Linked DNA regions of Homo sapiens: region 1 is linked to region 2. The links come from fine-mapping of genetic effects on gene expression. Tissue or cell type: whole blood. Region 2 holds a variant in brackets; the other region holds the start of a gene. All regions are shown on one strand. Distances are from middle to middle. Region 1 holds the start of SLAMF8 (SLAM family member 8). Region 2 overlaps LOC124904436 (a long non-coding RNA gene).

Evidence for each region. PIP is the estimated chance that this variant, and not a neighbour inherited with it, causes the effect.
Region 1: it holds the start of SLAMF8, and the variant in region 2 is the best candidate, but not a certain one, in a credible set for the expression of SLAMF8 in whole blood (INTERVAL, PIP 0.63).

Annotation. Positions count from the first base shown.
Region 1 is chr1:159,825,300-159,828,220 of GRCh38, forward strand. It overlaps SLAMF8 (SLAM family member 8), which reads left to right and starts at 1,574. Exons shown (of 5, transcript NM_020125.3): 1 at 1,574-1,639. The coding sequence starts at 1,600.
Region 2 is chr1:160,011,794-160,014,714 of GRCh38, forward strand. All of the region lies in intron 3 of LOC124904436 (a long non-coding RNA gene), which reads right to left. Among named protein-coding and RNA genes, the nearest start is that of PIGM, 19 kb to the right of the region's middle. The variant T/A (reference allele first, on the strand shown) is at 1,533.

The DNA of each region.
Region 1 (2,921 bases), 190 kb before region 2:
CCCTTGTCCTCTGTGGAGCCTACTTGGTATTTTCCCACAGCCACATCCCTGCACGCTCTGCTCTCCCCTCCTGCCCAGAGCCCACCCCCAACCTCTGGCTCTCTCCTTTCCTCATATTATCTAAACCATGCCCATCTTCAAGGCACAGCTCAAATTCCACCTTCTCAAGAAGCGTCCCCTGCCCAGATCCGCGAAGCCCTCTTTCCCACCCACTTCTGAGGACTGACTACCTGTTTGCACAAAGTGGTGTCTGTCTGCAGATAACCCTTCACTTTCCTTGGTGTACCTATCTCTACATTTTGGTTGTGAGTACCTGGAGGGCAAAAACCTTATCCCAAAATCCTCCTGCTCACCACCCACCCCCACCCCATCCTATATGCCTAGTTCCTGGCTGAGTCCAAAGCTCAGTGTCCAGTTTGATTGACAGGCGAGAGGCTGTGCAGGACCAGATACGATGAGCCACACTCCAGACTAGCAGGAATTTTCCTCAGGGGCAACACGTCCTCTAAAAACCTTCACTGGCAAGAAACCAAGAAACTTGAAGTGAGAAGAGAAACAGGATGAGGAGGGGATAACTGTGGCAAAATAGACCACACTTCAAAGGCTGAGGTTCAAGTTCCAGCTCTGCCTCTCTGTGAGCTCTGCAAGGGGCCTAACCTCACTCTGGTTTTCACATTTTCCCATTTCTAACCAGGTAACAAGATGATCCTCTCAGAGGAGAGTTGCAAGGCTTACATAAAGCCAGATGTGTAGCCATGTCTAGAATGTACTCACTCACTTAACAAATACTCATGAAACATCTGTAATGTGCCAAGCACTGAGGGCAACACAGAAGGGAACAAAAGACTGGCTAAACAGTCTGTGAAAACCAGAAAACTGTCATCAACAACACAGCAAGAGTAAAGAGGGAGGTGTGGGCATGCACAGGACACAAGGAGAGGGCCTCTCACCTGCCTGTGGTCAGGAAGCCTGGAAGGATGTCCTCGCCGACTGCACAGCCATGTTCTGTTTGCAAGGATAGAGGGAGCAGCATGCCTAGTCGGGGTGGTGGGGAAAGTACAACACAGGGAAGTGTGAAATCAGTAGTTCTGAGAAGGAGGCCTTCTGGCTTGGGATGGCTGGAGGGCAGAATGACTGTGGGCGACCAGCCTGGAGAAGAAGGCCTGACTCAGGAGGGCCTGCATGCAGAGCAGAGTTAGTCCTCATCCTCAGGTCCACGGGAGGCCACAGAAGCATTTTAAGCTAGAATGAGGATGACAGATAGTAGTGAGGCAGGCTGAGATGCAGGAAGGCCAGCGAGATCCAGCAAGGAGGATGTGGCTTGTGTGGGGGCTGTTGTCGCCACGTGTTAGCCAACCATGTGCATGTGAAAGAGGCTGACTTACAAGAATCTGCTCCTGTAAGCCCAGAGAGGCCCAGGGACAACTTCCACTTTATTCTGGATGTTTTCACTTTTGGGACATCCTGTTCTGAGTCAAGATTCCTCCTTCTGAACATGGGACTTTCCAGAAGGACCACAGCTCCTCCCGTGCATCCACTCGGCCTGGGAGGTTCTGGATTTTGGCTGTCGAGGGAGTTTGCCTGCCTCTCCAGAGAAAGATGGTCATGAGGCCCCTGTGGAGTCTGCTTCTCTGGGAAGGTAAGTGGGGCAGGCAGATAGCCTGTCCTCGGAGAGCTGAAGGCCCCTCCCCAGCTGCCTATGCCAGACGTCTGGGCAGGGATCCCTCGACCTGGGTGAGAACCCAGAAGCTGAGGGTGGGTAGGAAAGACTAGAACAAGCTCTTGGGCAACATTTTAAGCTAGGCAGATACAAAGAGATGCAGGGTCCTGGGAGGGAGGAGGTGGCAGCTTGAGGGGTATTCTTATCTGTGAGACATGAGCTGTTTTGTGGCCCAGAGCAGTAAAAACGGAGCCAGTGGGTGATACTGCTGGTTTGGAGAGAAAGTCGGCTGTGAGAATGGTGAGGACCCGGCAGTGTTAGCATGCAGAAACTCTGCAGAGTTTGAGGAGAGTAGCAGAGGGCAGGGCAGAGCAGGGTTCCCCACAATCAGCAGAGTGTGTTTTCAACAGCCTGTGGGGGAGCTGAGGTCCCTCCCTACAGGCCTTTATAAGGGGAGGCAAGTACTAAGTAGGGATGAGAGAGGCTAAATGTGGCCCACGTGGACTTAGGGGTGGCCGACGGTGGTGTGATGTTGGGATGGCTGATACACGGGGTCTCCTCCACACCGGGCGATCCCTCTATCCATCTGATGCCTGAGTTCCCTTCCTTGGTCAACAAGCAGCCAACATGACATGGGTCAACACTGCCGGGCCATGGATGAGGGTTTATGGGGTGCAGCAAAGATTAAGATGATATTGTTTACATCAGAGGCTCATAGGGACTTTGGGTTGCTTTGTTTCATCTCCTTGCCTGAGTTCCTGGCCCTGAGAGCTCCAAAGCCTGCAGATTTCTTCAATATTTCTAAACATGTGCAGGAAATCACACCTTAACCTCAAAAAAGGCCTTGGTCTGTTTGGTGAGACAAAAATAATTTGCCTTTTTTTTTTTTCTTTGAGACGGAGTCTTGCTCTGTCACCCAGGCTGGAATGCAATGGTGCATCTCAGCTCACTGTAACCTCTGCCTCCTGGGTTCAAGCGATTCTCCTGTCTCAGCCTCCTGAGTAGCTGGGATTACAGGTCACTGCCACTAAACCCGGCTAATGTTTGTATTTTTAGTAGAGACAGGGTTTCATCATGTTGACCAGGCTGGTCTCAAACTCCTGACCTCAAGTGATCCGCCCTCCTCAGCCTCCCAAAGTGCTGGAATTACAGGCATGAGCCACCACACCCAGCCCAAAAATAATTTTTCAAATGGCCCTTAATGATCAAAGATCTGTGTGACTGACCTGGTACAGACCCCTTATTTTTCAGTGGTACTGAA
Region 2 (2,921 bases):
ACCTAAAAGTCAAGCACAAGGGGCATTCCCATTAAAATTAGGTACCGTATAAAGATGCCTGCTATTATGAGCCTTGTGTTAGTCAAGGTTCTTCAGAGAAACAGAGCCAGTAGGATATGAGAGGGGATTTATGAGGGAATTGGCTGCTCACATGACCACAGAGGCAAAGTCCCACGACCAGCCACCTGTAAGCTAAAGAGAACCAGGGAACTCAGAACCAGGGAAGCTGACCGTGCAGCCTCCAGTCTGGGGCCAAAGGCCTGAGAGCCCTGGGAGGTCACTGGTGCAAGTCCCAGAGTCCAAAAGCCAAAGAACCTGGAGCCTGATGTCCAAGGGCAAGAGGAGGAAAAGCCTCCCACTCCAGAGGAAAGACAGCAGAGACAGAGAATCTGCTGTCTTTCTCCTGTTTGTTCCAACCAGGCCCCCAACCAGTTGGACAATGCCTGCCCCCATCGAGGGCAAGTCTTCTTCTCTCAGTCCACTGACTCACCCACCAATCTCTCCTGGAAACAGACACACCCAGAAACAAACCAGCCATTTAGGCATCTCTCAATCTCCTCATGTTAAAAATTAAAGTTAAAATTAACAGTCATAACGATTATTCAAAATGTGAGAAATTTTTAGGCAACTGTAATAAGGCGAGAAGAAAGAATTAGAAAGTATATATTTTGGAAAGAGAAGATAAAATTATAATTTTTTGCATGATGATATAATTACTTGAAACCCCAAGAAAATTAGCCACAAAACAGTTAGTACTAATTAGAGAATTCGTGTAATGTGTCCAATTGCAAAATAAATATACAAAACTTAATAGCATCCTGAAATGCCTTCAGGGATTAGGCAGACAACAAAAATGAATAAAGTACACTGGTGGGGACCTTTCCTGATGATGGGAAGCAATTGCCTCCCAGCTCCTGCACATTTTTGTCAAGGGAGACTGTGAGTCTAGAGTTGCCAGATATTCTGATTTTTAAGGAGAATTTGTAAAAACAGATTCTTGTATAAAACTTTCTGATTTTTAGATGCAGATAACTAATTCAAAAATATTCTGAACTAAATATATTCATAGGCTAGATATGGCCATGGGCCTCCAGTGTGCAACTTTTGATCAGTGCTTCCCTTTATAATTAATCTGCAAATATAGCAGAAGTAATGTGAAATGGTATAAAAAATTGATTAATCTTTGAATAGTGAATCATTTGAAATAAATTAAATTAAATTTCTACTTCTTGTATTATACCAAATAAAGTCTACAGGGTAATGATTTAAAGCAAAAAATGGAACTAAACAAGCAGTAGAAAATATATATATAGGAAAGTATTTATATAATTTCAAGTTGGGAAATGCTTTCTCAAAAATAACAAAAGAAAATATTTGCAAACTATTCATTTGACAAGGGACTAATATCTAAAATATACAAGAAACTCAACTCAATACCAAAAAAAAACAAATAATTATATTAAAAGTGGGCAAAGAATCGGAATAGACATTTCTCAAAAGGAGACATACAAATACACAATAAGTATATTTTT[T/A]AAATGCTTAACACCACTAATTAGGGAAATGCAAGTCAAAATCACAATGAGATATCACCTTATCCCAGTTAGAATAGCTATTATCAGGGAAAAAAACAAATGCTGACAAGGATGTGGAGAAGGGGAACTGTTATACACTGTTGGCGGGAATGTAAGTTAGCATAGTTACTACGATAAGAGTATGAAGATTTCTCGAAAAACTTAAAGTAGACCTACCATGCAATCCAGCAATTCCACTACTGGGTATTTATCCAAAGGAAAGGAAATCAGTGTATCAAAGGGGTATCTGCACTCCTATATTTAATGTAGGACTATTCACAATAGCATAGATATGGAAGCAAACTGTGTCCATCAAGGGGAAAATGGATAAAGAAAATGTATATATACACAATGGAATACTATTTGGCCATAAAAAACGGGATGAAATCCTATTATTTGCAGCAACATGGATGGAACTAGAGGTCATTATGTCGAGTGAAATAAACCAAGCACAGAAAGACAAATCACTCATATGTGAGAGCTAAAAAATTTGATCGCAGGGAGTTAGAGAGTAGAATGATAGATACCAGAGGGCGGGAAGGGTGTGTATGTGGATGGGGGGGATGAAAAGAGGTTGATTAATGAGTAAAAACAAACACTTAGACGAAAGGAAAAAGCTGTAAAGTTTGATAGCAGAGTGAGGTGACTATAGTTAACAACAATACCTTGTATATTTCAAAATAGCTGGGAGAGAAGACTTGAAATGTTCCCAATACAAAGAAATGATAAATGTTTGAGGTGGTGAATATCCTAAATGCCCTGACTTGATCACTACACATTCCATGCATGTATCAAAATAGCACTTGTACCCTATAAATACATACAAATATGTATCAAAAAATAATGTCTACAATAACAACATTTTAAAAATAGCAACAGAGAAATCACAAAAAGAAAAACTGGCCTAAATTACATATATTTTTTAACCATTTCAGATCAAAAAATAAAAGGCCAATGGCAGACTAGAAAAAATATTTAAAACACATAGACTCAATATCCATTTATAGAGATACTGGTCCTACAAATCAATAACAAGCATCTTCAGAGAATATTGAGTACAGGATATAGAAAAGCAAGTCATTAAATTAGAAATGCCAATAGCTAACAAGTGTAAGACAAAAACATTCAACCTCACAAGTAATCAAATAAATACAAATTAAACCACTGATGAGATACCATTTTCCCTATTGATTTGACAAACATTTTTGAAATTGTTTTTGAGACCCAGTGTTAACAAAGGCATTTATTTTTGGTAGAAGTGGACATTAATTCAGCCTGTAGAAAAATTTGGCAATATGCGTCAGAACTCTTTGACTCAGCAAGTCTACTTCTCAAAGTTTAGACTAAGGA